2 separate regions of the Homo sapiens genome follow, and region 2 is linked to region 1. A link means that fine-mapping ties the variant in region 1 to the expression of a gene that starts in the linked region. Tissue or cell type: whole blood. Region 1 holds a variant in brackets; the other region holds the start of a gene. All regions are shown on one strand. Distances are between the middles of the regions.

Region 1 (8,106 bases):
ATAGGGCCAGGTACAGTGTCTCACGCCTGTAATCTCAGCACTTTTGGAGGCTAAGAGAAGCAGATCACTTGAGGTCAGGAGTTTGAGACCAGCCTGGCCAACATGGTGAAACCCTATCTCTACTAAAAATACAAAAGTTGGCCAGGCATGGTGGTGCACGCCTGTAATTCCATTTACTCGGGAGGCTGAGACAGATGAATTGCTTGAACCAGGGAGGTGGAGGTTACAGTGAGCCAAGATCACACCACTGCACTCCAGCCTGGGTGATGGAATGAGACTGTCTCAAAAAAAAATTAAAATTAAGAAAAACTATAGAAGCATAGTGGTAGGAGGAACTGACACTGAGGTATCAAGTAAGGCTTAGTGTTAAAGAATGTCTAGAAGTTGACAAAGCACACAAGGGAAGGAAGGGCATTCTAAGGAGAAGGAACAGCTTATGCAAAGGCACATGACAAAAAAGAACAGAGTATTCATTAATTCCTCAAGTCAAACATTTATTGAGCACTTACCATGTACATATCCTGGAACGCAAAGACATGATTCCTACCCTCAAAAGCTTACCATCAATTATCAGACAACTATTATCAGATAACCAATACTCAATGATGACAACAAAGAATAAAGAAAGCTACTGGCTCTCTGCCTGGGGTGTAATGGAAGTATAAACAAAAAGCAACTAAATTATACTGAGGGATCATAGAATAATTCTCATAGGAAGTAAAGAATTACTTTGGTTACTGGTTAACCAAAGTGGTGTGGAAGGCTGGGCGCGGTGGCTCACGCCTGTAATCCCAGCACTTTGGGAGACCAAGACAGGCAGATCACCTGAGGTCAGGAGTTCGACACCAGCCTGGCCAACATGGCGAAACCCCGTCTCTACTAAAAATAAAAAAAATTAGCCAGGTGTGGTGGCGGGTGCTTGTAATTCCAGCTACTCAGGAGGCTGAGGCAGGAGAATCACTTGAACCTGGGAGGCGGAGGTTGCAGTGAGCTGAAATTGCACCACTGAGCTCCAGCCTGGGTGACAGAGAGAGACTCCAGCTCAATAAACAAACAAACAAACAAACAAACAAGATGGTGTGGAAGATGACAATAAGACTAGAACCCAGTAAGACTTTTCTCCATATCCAACTACATATCCTCCTCTCCCTTCCTTCTACATCAAGTCAATCATCAAATCTTCCTGTTGATTCTACATCACTGACCTTCCTGACCATGATACGCTGTCAAAAACACCATGTATCTGTTCTTCCTAGAACTTACACAGGTCTATTTTTTATATTTATTTGTATAATTGTCTTCTCTCTCCTGTTCATCCCATCCCTACAAATTATAGACTATATGTCCTTTTTTTTTTTTTTTGAGACAGTCTCACTCTGTTGTCCAGGCTGGAGTGCAGTGGCATGATCTCAGCTCACTTGCAACCTCTGCCACCCAGGTTCAAGCGATTCTCTGCCTCAGCCTCCCGAATAGCTGGGATTACAGGTTCCTGCCACCATGACCAGCTAATTTTTGTATTTTCAGTAGAGACGAAGTTTCACCATCTTGGCCAGGCTGGTCTTGAACTCCTGACCTCATGATCCACCCGCCTCAGCCTCCCAAAGTGCTAGGATTACAGGTGTGAGCCACTATGCCCAGCCTGTATGTCCTTTTTAACCTCTACATTGTACCCTAAGATTCTATCAACAGTACCTTGCACATAGAAGCACTCAATTTAAAACATTTTGCACCCACACACTTCATTCCACCTTCATGCATCACCCTAGTCCAAACCACCAGCAGCTCTTACTCAGACTACTGCAACAGACTTTTCTTTTTTCTCTCTCTCCAGGCACTCATTCTGGCTCTCTCCTGTAATCCATTCTCCACACAGTATCAAGGGACCCTTTCTAAACATAAATCAGTTCATGCCATTTCTGCCATTTTTAACCTTCCATTAGCTTCCCATTTCATTTAGAATAAATCTAACATCCTTAGTATGGCCTACAGATCTCCGCGTTCACATCATTCTCCCCATAACACATCATACTCCAGGCACAATGACCTTCTATTTCTCAAATGCTCCAAACATTTTCTCAGAGAAGGGCTCTTACACTGCTTTTTCTATTTGCCTGAAACGCTTTGCTTCCAGTCCCCACAAACCTTCACCTGGGTAACACCTATACATCCTACCAGTTTGTCTAAATATCACTTCCTTAGCAATGCTATCCCTACTCCCTAATTTAAATTCTCTCTCAAAGTACCCTGTTCTATTCCCTCATAGTACTTACCAAAATGTATATTTACTTATGATTATTCAATGTCTCCTCCATGAATAACAGCTAACATATACACAGCATTTGCCATATATTAACTCATTTAATCCTAATAACCAGTGAAGCAGGCTGATGATGAAACTAAAAGGTTAAGTTAAAGATTAAACAGAGAGGTTAAGTAATTTGTTCAAGGTCACAAAGCAGTAAGGAGTCAAAACTTGAACCCAGACACTCTGGCTCCAAAGTTCACACTTTTAATGACTATGCTATAGAGTAAGCTTTGAGAGAACTAAATAACCATGTCTATTTTGTGCATCACTGCATATTCAGGTCAGGTGCCAGATACGAAGTAAGCATTCACATATTTGCAGAATGAATTTGTTAGTAAATAATTAAGAGGCAAATAATTATATTTAGAAGCATTAGGGAGAGGAATAAGAATAAAATGGGTTAGAGGCAATGATGATAGTGTCGATTCTGGACAAACTGAATTAAAGGCAGCTCAGGAACATCTTAATATCTGCTTAATTAGAATACCACAGGGAATCCATGGAGGGGCTGAAAGAGGTCCAGGAACAACCTAGAACAGTATGCAAAATTTAGTATGCGATGTACTTTTCTGGGGAGAAAGATATACCTTAATCAGATTATTAGGGGAGTATGTAATCCCCCAAAATATTTAGGAACCATTGATCTAAGTGGAAATGTCCAGTAGACACTGGAGATAAAAAAGGTGAACCTTAGCTAAATACAAAGATTTGGGAAGTAACTAAAGCCAGGGGTTTGAAAAAGCCCAAAAATGTAGAGTAAAATATTTCAGAGGGTTATGGTCAGAACAGACATTTAGATGACAGGTGGTGAAAAAAGAATCTAGGAAAAAGGAAGAGAAGAGTAGTCACAGAAATAAGAGAAAAATAGATGAGAGTAGAATTACAGAAGCTAAGGAGGGAGAATGTCTTAAAGAACAAGGAAGTGGCAGAGCCTCATAACCAAGGAGTCAAGGATTTAACAACAGAAAAATGTATTCCAGGAACTACACAGTTTCATAAGTGGAGTAGTACAACAGAATATTCACATATGCAAGGAGAGGAAGTAAATGAATATCAGGGTCTAGTGCTCAGGACAGAGAATCATACTGAAGAAATAGATTGGAAAATCAATGTATTTCAAACTATAAATGTAAGTGCAATTATTCAGGTAGCACATAGAGAAGTGGGGCTCTGATCTAGAATCTACGAATGAGCTTGCAGGCAGATGTCCTGTGAAACTCCTAAAATTGTAAGCACAAGTTTGTGTAAGGTACATACAAGCAATTTTTGACAAAGGGTCCATAAATTTTATCAATTTTCCGAGGGGTGTATGACCCAACAAAAGATAAAGAACCATAGAAGCTGAATGAGAAAAGAGAGCCAAGCTAGAAAATAGCCCTGGAGAACATCAACATATAAAAGAAACCTGAAGCTTATCCAATGGAAATAACAAATCTGAAGAAGTAAGTTGTACATGGAAGACAGGCAGTCTTCATGGATTTCAGACATTTTTTACTTGACATCATATATGCTCTATAAATATTTCTCTAACTTTTCTGACTGTGACTCAGTAAAAACTACATTGCTAACCAGTGTACACATACAGGTTACAGAAATAATTTTCCAGTAACCTGGAATGACACCAATACAGGTCCCCATAAACTTACAGTGGGGTGATATCTCAA[TTAAC/C]CCATCACAATTGAAAATATCATTAAGTCAAAAAACGCATTTTTTCCAGGGGGCGGGGGGTGACAGAGTCTCGTTCTGTTGCCCAGGCTGGAGTACAGCGGCATGATCTTGGCTCACTGCAACCTCCACCTCCCAGGTTCAAGCAATTCTCCCTCCAGTGGCTCACACCTGTAATCCCAGAACTTTGGGAGGCCAAGGTGGGTGGATCACTTGAGGCCAGGAGTTCGAGACCAACCTGGCCAACATGGCAGAACTTCCCCCTCCAACTAAAAATACACGCCTGTTACCCCAGCTACTGGGGAGGCTGAGGCATGAGAATCACTTGAACTCGGGAGGCAGAGATTGCAGTGAGCCGAGATCATGCCATTGCACTCCAGCCTGGGCAACAGAGCAAGACTCCATCTCCAAAAAAAGAAAAATAGAAAAAAATTAATAAATATTAATAAAATAAAATGGAATATCTCCTCACAGCTAAATTTCTTCACAAAAATAAAAACTACAAATGAGGATGCAACGAAAGTAAGCTTCTGAATATCACCTCTATTAGCCAAGCAAGGAAAGTCACTTAGCAATAGTTAGTTAACTAAATCACATCTGACTATAGCTGCCAAAGAATTGTATATCCAGAGAAAATAAACTTTTTCAGTTTATTTTCTGAAGCAGTGATTGAGCTTAGCAGAGGGAAATTTTTACTGCAATTTTTAAAATTCAGGGTGAGCTGAAATTTTTCTGAATGAGACCACCCACACCCACTATTTAATTGAACACTGAATGGCTCTGGAAATTAGCTTTTCTGACAGACTTCACCATGTGTCTCAATGAATTCAACCTAGTCAAATAGCAAAACAGTGATTATATGCAGAACTTATGCTGCCACAAAGTCATTTCAATAAAAATTAATATTGTTTGAACCACAAGTATTGTCAAAGTACATACACTTCCTGTGTTGTCCAGAATTAAAACAGTATGAGAGATGTCCATTCCCATACAAAGTTGTAGTGAATATATCTTCCAAGTTCAGCATTTTATACTTGCACCAGAACTTGGTGCAAGTGAAAAGGGAATTTCTCCATTTCAAAATCTATCTACTTGTGCAATTGGGGAGGTTCCATCTAGCCTTAAATTTAAAGTGATTAATCTTCAACTAATGTTTTAAAAATCAAAGAATCCAACAATTTTTTTTTTCAGACAGAGTCTCACTCTGTAGCCCAGGCTGGAGTGCAGTGGCACAATCTCAGCTCACTGCAACCTCCACCTCCCAGGTTCAAGAGATTCTCCTTCCTCAGTCTCCCGAGTAACTGGGATTACAGGCACATGCCACGCCCAGCTAATTTTTGTATTTTTAGTAGAGACAGGGTTTCACCACATGGGCCAGGCTGGTCTGGAGCTCCGCCCAAGTGATCTGCCGGTCTCAGCCTCCCAAAGTGCTGGGATTACAGGCGTGAGCCACCGCACTCGGCCCTAACAGAATTCTTAAAATGCCTTCCAAGAGACTAACAGGCTCAATTAGAAACACATGCTTGTGAATTGATATGAGTAATTGGCAGGACCTGTCTGTGAAAAATGACATTTTCTAAGATTAAATACATAAAACCTCATACAGATAAATAATAACAGATGAACATTTGCAACTGATTTTAAGGCTAAGGAACATTTACTTTGAACTTCAATTAAACAAATTGTTATCCTCCCCAAAAAAAGAATTCCATTCTTCTCATCTGTAGACATGTATTACCAAAATGAAAAAGTACTAAACAATTACATTTTTTATTTTCATCAATACAAAATTTGTGGAAATTTGTTTTTTCTTTTAATATATGTACCTACATAATACCCTATTTTGCCTCTTGGCCCACAGTGCCTAAAATACTTACTATGTGGCCCTCTACAGAAAAAGTTTGCAAACACCTGGGTTAACGTATTATCTCCAACTGATTAGCTATACAACACTGGACATCAGTTAACTTTTCTAGGTCTTTCTTTCCACATTTATAAAATAAGGAGGACTGAAGACAACCTCTATGGTATATACTCCAACTTTAGTATTCCACAATTAATAATACACATTTCATATTCACTTTGAATGGTAATATTTTTTCTTTTCCTCTTTTTTTTGAGACAGAGTCCACCCAGGCTGGCTGGAGGGCAGTGGTACAGTCTCGGCTCACTGCAACCTCCTCCTCCCGGGTTTCAAGTGATTCTCATGTCTCAGCATTCCAAGTAGCTGGGATTACAGGTGCGTGATCACCATGCCTGGCTAATTTTTAGTATTTTTAGTAGAGACAGGGTTTCACCATGTTGACCAAGCTGGTCTCAAACTCCTGGACTCAAGTGATCCTCCAACCTCGGCCTCCCTAAGTGCTGGGATTACAGATGTGAGCCACCACACCCGGCCTTCTTTTTTTTTTTTTTTTTTTTTTTTGGTACAGATGGAGTCTTGCTACGTTGCCCAGGCTGGTCTCAAACTACTGACCTCAAGCAATCCTCCCACCTCAGCCTCCCAAAGTTCTGGGATTACATGTATGATCCATCCACTCACTGTACCTGGCCTGTATAGTAATATTTTGAATGAAATGTTAGGCCAGTTTTATATAAAGTATGAAGAAATGTCTTATTATGTAAAATATGAAGATGTACTTTATTAAATTCACAGAGGATGAAAAAATGGTACTGGGACAACTGGATACACATACAAAAGAATTATGTTGGTTCAGCAGAACATTGACTCAAAAAAATAAAAGAATTATGTTGAACCATTTACCTCACACCACATGCAAAAATGAACACAAACCAGATCAAAGATCTAAAAGTAAGTGCTGAAACTATAAAACTTTTATGGAAAAAAAATGAGAAAGAGTCACAACCTTGGATTTAGCAATGATTTCTTAAGTATGGCAAAAAGGCTGGGCATGATGGCTCATGCCTGTAATCCCAACACTTTGGGAGGCTGAGGCGGGCGGAGGCGACTTAGTGAGACTTCATCTCAGGGAAAAAAAAAAAAAAAAGTATGACACAAAAAGCACAGGTAATACACGATAAAAAAAGATCCTGGACTTCATCAAATTAAAACCTTTTGTATATTATTCACTATTAAGACAGTGAAAAGGCAATGTACAGAAAAGGAAAAAATATTTGCAAACCATATATCTGATAATGGACTAATATTTAGAATATAAAAAGAACTCCTACAACTCAACAACAAAAAAATCACTTTAAAAATGGGAGCCAGGGCCAGGCGCAGTGGCTCACCCCTGTAATCCCAGCACTTTGGGAGGTCGAGGCAGGCAGATCACAAGGTCAGGAAATCGAGACCATCCTGGCTAACACAGTGAAACCCCATCTCTACTAAAAATACAAAAAATTAGCCAGGCATGGTGGCACGTGCCTATAGTCCCAGCTACTCAGGAGGCTGAGACAGGAGAATCACATGAACCCGGGAGGCGGAGGTTGCAGTGAGCCAAGGTCACGCCACTGCACTACAGCCTGGGCCACAGCGTGAGACTCCGTCTCAAAAAATAAAAATAAAAAATAAAATAAAATAAAATAAATTAAAAAAAAAAAAAAGAGCCAGGCACCATGGCTCACACCTGTAATCCCAGCACTTTGAGAGGCCAAGGCAGGAAGATGGCTTGAGCTCAATTCAAGACCAACCCCAGCAACACAGCAAGACCCTGTTTCTAAAAAAAAAATAAAAAATAATTAGCTAAGTGTGGTGACACATGCCTATAATTGGAAGGCTGAGGTAAGAGATCACTTGAGCCTGGGAGGATGAGGCTACAGTGAGCCCTGACCATGCCACTGCACTGCAGCCTGGGCAACAGAGCAAAGACCCAGTCTCAAAAGAAAAAAAAAAAAAAAAGGCCAGGCATGGTGGCTCACGCCTGTAATCCCAGCACTTTGGGAGGCTGAGGCAAGCAGATCACCTGAGGTTAGAAGTTCGAGACCAGCCTGGCCAACACGGTGAAACCCCATCTCTACTAAAAATACAAAAAAATGGCCGGGTACAGTGGCTCATGCCTGTAATCCCAGCACTTTGGGAGGCTAAGGCAGGGGGAATCACAAGGTCAAGAGATCAAGACCATCCTGGTAAAACCCCGTCAATACTAAAAATACAAAAATTAGCTGGGTGAGGT
Region 2 (8,106 bases), 130 kb before region 1:
GCTTTCTGACATTTCCTTCTTTGCCCCCCAAAAGGGGCATGTACCTTTTTGTCTTCAAATTTTATTTGAGAATTAGCTATCCATGAATCACAAATTTCCTGTTATCATGATTACTCACAGCCACCACATGTTAGAGCAACTCACAGAGCTTAATACACTAGAGTAATCACAAGGCAGGCTTTTAGAATAATCTCAGGTAGAGACCTTTTACTAAGGAGTGTGGGGAGTCTGGCATCTCTAGGGTCCTGGGCGCACAAAGACAGCTACTCCTCTTGGGTGCTAAAGATATGCACCAGTCATTTTGCTGCCAGACCATTCAAGGGTCATTCAACTTCAGCTAAGTATTTCTTTCATACACAGCTTCAGGACAGACAAAGCCATCTAAAGCAGTCTGAAGCACTGAATTCCTATTTTAAACAGGGAATGGTAAATGGTCTTGCCAGGGATGCCCCTTTTCCACTGTTTTCCTGGAGAGCTCTTCTCCACCTGCCTTAGGACTCACAGTTCAAGCATCCCTTCCTCTGTGAAGCCTTTCCTTTTTTTTTTTTTTTTGAGACGGAGTCTTGCTCTGTTACCCAGGCTAGAGTGCACTGGCAGGATCTGAGCTCACTGCAACCTCAGCCTCCCGGGTTCAGGCGAGTCTCCTGCCTCAGCCTCCCGAGTAGCTGGGATTACAGACATGCACCACCACGCCCGGCTAATTTTTGTATTTTTAGTAGAGATGAGGTTTCACCATCTTGACCAGGCTGGTTTCGAACTCCTGACCTAGTGATCCATCCGCCTTGGCCTCCCAAAGTGCTGGGATTACAGGGGTGAGCCACCATGCCTGGCCTGTGAAGCCTTTCCTAATTCCTCTGAACTGACTTAGGTCGCCTCCCCTGTGCTTCCATTAACAACGTACACATACTTCTACAGCAGCACTTACCACACCGTGTTTTAATTGTTTACATGTCTGACTAGCCATAAGCTCTTTGATGGCAAGGGTAATGTTTTACCCATCACTGATTGCACACTTCATAGGCACTCAATAAACACTTGTTAAATGCATTAATAATGGATGATATTGGAAGTCTTAAAGAATGGCAACTATACTTTCTGGATTCCAGACCAAAATTACAGTAAGAATTAACAATGAAGGCTAAACTCTCATTATATGTTTCTACTACATATATCATTCCTGGCCAGAAAAAGAGGCCAAAGATTGGAGAAGATTGCTCTAACAGTGCTGGTCACTGCCAAGCTACCAGCCAAGAATAAGAGCACTTGCAGTATTAAGAATGAACAGAGTCATATCTAAGGCAATTTCTACATTTCAGGCTTCTTTGCCTGCCTCAGGAGAATAGAAACAATGATGAATAAGAGACCTTGGAAGGGTCACAATGTCCACCATCACAAAACCTTGTAGCAAACTGTGATTCAACACAACTTCTGCTGAAATATACAGGAAAGCTCTTCACCTTCTTACCAAATCTACTCAAAGTTCTGCTAAGGAACACAGGGCTGAACTAAGTCCTCCCAGAACCCTGCCATTTGTACAGTGGCATTCTAAATCATTCCTCATGGGATTTACTCATCACTGAAGAGATACAGGCAAAGCAATACAATGCTGTGGTCTCAAATGCCTCTCCCTGTAACAACCTTGTACCTCACAACCCTATTGGGTTTACAGGCTACTAATAAGACACAAAATCTGATCTGATCCTGTGGGAGTAAAGCCCTGGATTCCCTCAAGGGATTAAATAAATGTCGACTACTTCTGGATTCCCAAAGTTGTGGGGTTTATTTAGTTGAAAAAGCATAAGGACCAAAACACAGACAAGTGAAGCGATGGAAAGGAACTTTGCCTCTGAGGATCATCTGCAGCTGAGTGGGATGTGGCTCTTGGCATATAGTGAATGAGATAAGCAATGCTCAAGGGCCATCCAGAACTGTTTTGCTGACAGATATCTGGCTTCTTGCATGTTATTCCTAAGAAGCCAAAAGGCTCCAGTTAGCCTCTTGAAGAGACAAAAAAAATTTGTTTTCACCGTAGGCAAGAGCAATTACCAAGCCAGTAACTCTGACTAGGTGTTTTAGCATATTTCTTTCTGCCACTACAGTCTTACATAACCCCAGCTGTTACGTTAACACCTGCAGCTACATTAGTCACAGCTTAGCCCTTCACAAGGTATGTGTTCCTACTGTCCTCTCCCAAGAAGGGAAACTGAGTCATAGCATATCAACTGGCTTCCCAAGCACATGCTTAGTGTATAGTGAGGCCACAATTGAACCCAGGTGGTCTTCCTACTATTCACCTTTTCTCATGGATGAATCTCAGCATGCCCACCCCTGCTGCTCTTTTTCCTTCAACCTAAAACCAAATCATTGCCTGCAGAGATCATATGTGATCCTTTAGAGTCAACAAGGGCTTCTAGTTATCTTTCCCAAGAAACAGGAAGGTTAACGAGGAACATGGAGCAGGAGAGGGTGGGTTTGGAAAGAGGTGGATCCCAACAGGACTCACCTTGGAGCTGAGGTCCTCTCGTCGGTTTCCTGCCTTACTCCTGCGCAGTTTGATGGATGGAGATCTCAACAGATTCTTGATCCGGCTGGTAATGGTTGACCCTTCCACAGCCATTATGACGAGAAACCCTTTGGGACAGTCCCCGGCCCAGTCCTGGGTCTTGTCTCAACAGCGGCACTGTCTTCCCACTCCAGAGGGCTTCCCAGTATGCCCTCTCACTGACCTGAGATGGCAGAAGCCACCTTAGTATCACAGTGTCTTACCTTCTGCCTAGCGAAGTCTGCAGCTTTTACCTCTGGGTATTGCTCTCACCATTTCCCTCATCCCCACCTTCTAGCCCTGCACAGTTTCTTACAACGTCGGAAGGAAAGGCTCACGAAAAAGGGGGGGAAAATCCTAAGCCACGAAGAAATGCCAGGCCCACGCCCGCCAGAGGCGTTTAACTGGCGAGATGGATGGGATGGGCCCCAGTTGGTCTCGTGGACGATCTGGTTCCCGTTAATGCCCAACTGTTCCCATGGCAACTGTAGTGTCCAAGGGAGGAGGCCGCCGAGACCACCAGGGATTTCCGCAGGCCTGGACACCTGCGCTAGCGCCGGCGGGGACGCGGCGGGGCTCGCCGTAGCCCACAACTCGTTCTGCCACGGGAGCCTCCCTCCCCCACTCCCTATCCTCCAGAGCTCGCTCTCCGCCCTCCACAGCGGCTCTGGACCTTTATCTTTCACCCGCCTCTGAGGCCCCTGCTACTCGTCAGCGCCCCCGTTCGGGCCCAGCCTCACCAGCCTCGGCGAGCTAAGGCCACCCCGCTCACAGCGCCCTCGGGCATCGCGTTCGGCAATTTCAGCTCCGCCGCGGTAGCCGCAGCGGTAGAGGCAGCAGCAGGAGCTATGGTGGCACGATCGGCTCAAAACGCGAACTACCGCCTGGGCCAAGCCGCGGGCTGGGTGGGCGGAGCCGACGCGAGGGGCGCGGCCTGTAGTCAGGAGAGCGCTTCCAGAGTGGACGAGCAAGGTTTACGGGGGCGGAGCCAATGAAAGGGCCCAGGAAGCAGACGGCTTGGGACTAGGGAACCACGGAATCCGCACAATTGCGGGTACCGCTTTTAGAGGAAGGTCAACAGAACATGGCTTCAGAATTGAGAGAACCAAGCCTTTTATGGTATTATCAGGCCTGGTCCCCCATGGAACTGCACTTCCCAGAGCCCCAAGACGATAACCACGCCTCCAGGGTGTTAAGGTTGTCATCTGATAGGCCCGAGGGACCGTAGCTGAAACTCCTAGCTCAGAATTACAAGACTGAGCTACAGCCTAAAAGCTCTGCTCCCAGCGACCACAAGTGTTGAGATTTAAAGCGACTGAAGTAGTTTCTGCTCGCAGCCAGTCCGGCACGTAGACTCAACGTGGAAAGGATTATTCTGAGTAATGCAATTTAATAGCTAAGAACAGTATTTTTGCACTGGGCAACCTGGTCATCATGAAAGGGGAAAGGGTGGCCTTGAACAGAGCTTTGGGCGTGCGGGGGAAAGAGAAGTGAATATGCTATGTTATAATACTTTAGGTTTCATGGCTTCTTTAGCCTCCAACATCCCATTGTGCTTCCTCACCTAAAGCTGACCAGGACTTTGTTGCTCCAGATCTTTTCCTCATTCCATTTACTTATGAATCCTTTTATCTAGGGCTGTTCCTTGCTGAGGTCACTGTCGAGCTTGCTGATACTAGATCGAGGGGTAGTTTTCTAACTCATGTCGGGGGAGGCAGAGGGAATACACGGAAATGTTACATGAAATAGTATTTCCTGAGTATTCTCCACTTGACTACTACCACAAGAAATCACCTTATGAAAAAGCCTAAGCCAGAGACTTGGGTCCCAAGGGAATAGTACACTGGTGTGTCCGTCTCACCCTATCCAGATCTTTTGAATCCCTGTGGAGATGACATGTGTCTGCAAGAGGGAAGAACCTCTAACAAATTATTATACCTTATGAAAAAGCCTAAGCCAAAGACAAGGGACCCAAGGGAGTACTACACTGGTGTGTCTGTCTCACCCTATCCAGATCTTTTGAAACCCTGTGGAGATGACATGTGATAACAAGAGGGAAGAACCCCTAAACTCATTGCTTGTGTACAACGGTGAGCCTTTAGAGCCAAGTGGCAAAGCACATATTTTCTTGTGTATACTGTAGCCACGTACTGAAAATTAGATTTGTAAAGCTCACAAGTTGACATGGAGATGATGGATGTCACCTCCTGGAGACCAACTGGCAATAGCACGTGGCCTTCTTCCCTTCAACCATGCACTGCAAATATTATGAAACAGAAAATACGATTTTCAAATTTATTTCCCAAGTCTGGAAGAAGAAGGCAAGAACCATTAGCTACAATATGCAAGAGGTAGTTGGTTCCTTCAACCTCTTGGTAGTTACATGATGGGACCTCTCCATGGGATTGAAAGCTAATAAATGGTGCCACCTGGTGTCTTTACTTGCATGCTGCAGACCACGGCAGATGCCATCTCCACCCATGAAACTAGAGTAAAAATGTGCCCACAAGAGCCGTCCCTAATCCTCTCCAGATCATTCTGGTGTCCGCTAACGGTTTTCTCACCTGATCACTCATGGCCAGATAAATGGTTTACAAAGTATCACTGGTCATTTCTTTCATGAAAAACAACTGAAAGCATTTTAATGAGGATTTCTTAAGTCTGGAATCTGGGTACTTCCAGTCTTAGGCCAAAGCCACGCTTTTTTTTTTTTTTTTTTTTTTTTTTTAAACAGAGTCTTGCTCTGTCCCCAGACTGGACTGCAGTGGCGATCTCAGCTCACTGCAACCTCCGACTCCTGGTTTCAAGCCATTCTCTTGCCTCAGCCTCCCGAGTAGCTGGGATTACAGGCACGCGCCACCACACCCAGTTAATTTTTGTATTTTTAGTAAAGATGGGGTTTCACCATGTTGGCCAGGAGGTCTCGATCTCCTGACCTCGTGATCCGCCTGCCTTGGCCTCCCAAAGTGCCAGGATTACAGGCGTGAGCCACCATGCCCGGCCCACACATTTTTAATTCTTCACAATTCAGTCCAACTTTTATTGTCTAGGTACTACACTGCCTTTGAGATACCAATATAGGAATAAGCTATATAGGCTATTCCCATTCTTCATTAATTCCTCAGAAAATAACAGTCCCAGGTCTAATGTGAACAGAAGCATTATTCACTTTTCTCCACTCAGATTTACAGTCATGCACTGTATACATTTCAATGACCACATGATCCCATTAAATTATAATATCATATTTTTACCATACCTTTCCTATGTGTAGACACACAAACACCACGTGTTACAACTGCCTATGATATTCAGTGCAGTTAACATGCTGTACAGAGTTGTAGCCTAGGAGCAACACAGCCTAGGTGTGTGGTTAAGCAACACCATCTAGGTTTGTTTAAGTACAGTACACTCTATGATGTTTGCAGAACAAAACCACCCAAGGTGCATTTCTCAGAACGTATCCCCATCATTAAGTGACGCATGACTCTACTTGCCATCCCAATCCTCCAAAATGCAGTTAACTCTTCATAAGTATTTCATCATCCATACACTATTTAACACTTTATTCTACTTTTATATGTCCTAAACATCTATACATAGTGTTTGCCAGCTTCTGAAATTCTAGATGTCTGGGGAATAGACGTTATATAGTTGTCTGTTTAGCACTATACTCATTAGATCAAATTTTAAAATTCACCCTAGGCATAACATGCAAATAAGGTATAAGTTCCTGGGAAACAGTCTAAACATTTGCTCATCAATTCAAATATTTATTGAGCACCTTTACATGCAAAGGCACTGTGCAACAGCTGAGATCAATGATTGCAGTTGGAAACACAATGGATCTCAAAACCATGCTTCCAAGACTGCTTTCCTACTTAATATCTTTTCTACCAGCAGAGTTTACAACAATAGAAATTAGTAGAGTTTAGATTTGTCTCAAAATTTCCAACTCATCCCATAGTCTTCCCATCCTCTTAATGCACCACCATCACTATTCAACACTTATGTGTAGAACAGCTCAGTCATGTCTAACATTAGCTACACCTCAAACAAAAAGTTGTACTTATCAAATTATTTCCCTCTATTCCAAAAAATGCGTTATAACTGATTTTTTTCCTCCAACTGGCAGTGAGTCTGAATATCTCAGCTTTAATTTTCCCTGCACCTAGATATTTGTGTCCATGTAAAATTTCATTAGTAGGCCGGGCGCAGTGGCTCACGCCTGTAATCCCAGCACTTTGGGAGGCCGAGGCGGGCGGATCACAAGGTCAGGAGATTGAGACCATCCTGGCTAACATGGTGAAACCCTGTCTCTACAAAAAAATACAAAAAAATTAGCCGGGCACAGTGTCGGGCGCCTGTAGTCCCAGCTACTCCGGAGGCTGAGGCAGGACAATGGCGTAAACCCGGGAGGCAGAGCTTGCAGTGAGCCAAGACGGCACCACTGCACTCCAGCCTGGGCGACAGAGTGAGACTCTGCCTCAAAAAAAATAAAAATAAAAATTTCATTAGTGATAATACAGTGACATGAAGTACTGATGCCTTTACAGCACCTTCTTCAAAACCAACAGTTTTGTGCAAGAAATGTATTCTGATTCTTGGTTATCAGTCATTCTCTATAAAAGTACCTGGAAAATGTGCTGTGTATGGTTTGTTGTTGTTTAATTCTGGAGTGAGGGACAAGGGCTGTCACTATTTTCTAGACCCGTTTTTAAAGTGCATCACCCTATTTGATTTCAAATATCTCAACCAGTATAGTTAGAAAAAAAATTATCTAAACCACTAAACCAAAAATAACATATGGATTGTCTGCCTTTCTTGTGTGTTCAAAACATTTTCAAACTTGTTATAGAAGAGCCTAGCATCAGGTATTTCATCTGTAATTCCACGAAAAAACTATTGTATGTACTATAAAATCACACAAAGTGAACAATTTGTATGAAGCTTATATAACTGGACTTGATCTGTTAGTGACCTTAATAGATAGGAGTAGTTGGATGTCTAAAGGATTCCTTTAAACGTTTTTGTTAACTGTCAAACTCTTTAACATATCTTCCCTTAAGAACACCTACTGTCCTTTACCACTAAAAGACTGTGTTTGTGTACCTTTACTCCCCAAGGTTAACAGGTGAACTGCCTTGCTCATACTGACACCAGAATGATTTTAGAATGACTTCTAAAACAAATACTTGCCATCAGGTTGCACACAATTTTGAAGCCTCCATGTAAAACATGCTACAAGGATTAGAACATCGAAAACCTCCCCCAAATGGCATATCAGAAACTTAGAGAAAAGGAAAGGATTCCTATGATAAAACCACTTCAGTGGCACCTCTCTCAAATATGTCTTAGGGAATTAGAATTCTCCACTCCAAGTTGGCACAAACCTCCCAACACCAAGTTCTGCTTTAATTGTTTTAACTGCTTTATTTCAGGTTTATATATTCTACCTTTCAATCACCAAACTTCTGTTCTTAGATTTCTAAAAAAATAGTCACTTTTCGAAAGCAGAAAAGGAAAGATATATATATTTAATATATAAAAGAAAATGCTAAATC

The links. PIP is the estimated chance that this variant, and not a neighbour inherited with it, causes the effect.
Region 2: it holds the start of MAPKBP1, and the variant in region 1 is fine-mapped to the expression of MAPKBP1 in whole blood (TOPMed, PIP above 0.99).

Annotation. Positions count from the first base shown.
Region 1 is chr15:41,642,636-41,650,741 of GRCh38, reverse strand. It overlaps a transcript of MGA not described here. Among named protein-coding and RNA genes, the nearest start is that of MGA, 14 kb to the left of the region's middle. The variant TTAAC/C (reference allele first, on the strand shown) is at 3,970.
Region 2 is chr15:41,769,787-41,777,892 of GRCh38, reverse strand. MAPKBP1 (mitogen-activated protein kinase binding protein 1) reads right to left here and starts at 3,409. Exons shown (of 31, transcript NM_014994.3): 1 at 3,283-3,409; 2 at 2,504-2,726. The coding sequence starts at 2,617. MGA (MAX dimerization protein MGA) reads right to left here. Exons shown (of 24, transcript NM_001400225.1): 24 at 7,953-8,106. RefSeq lists an enhancer at 3,913-3,962.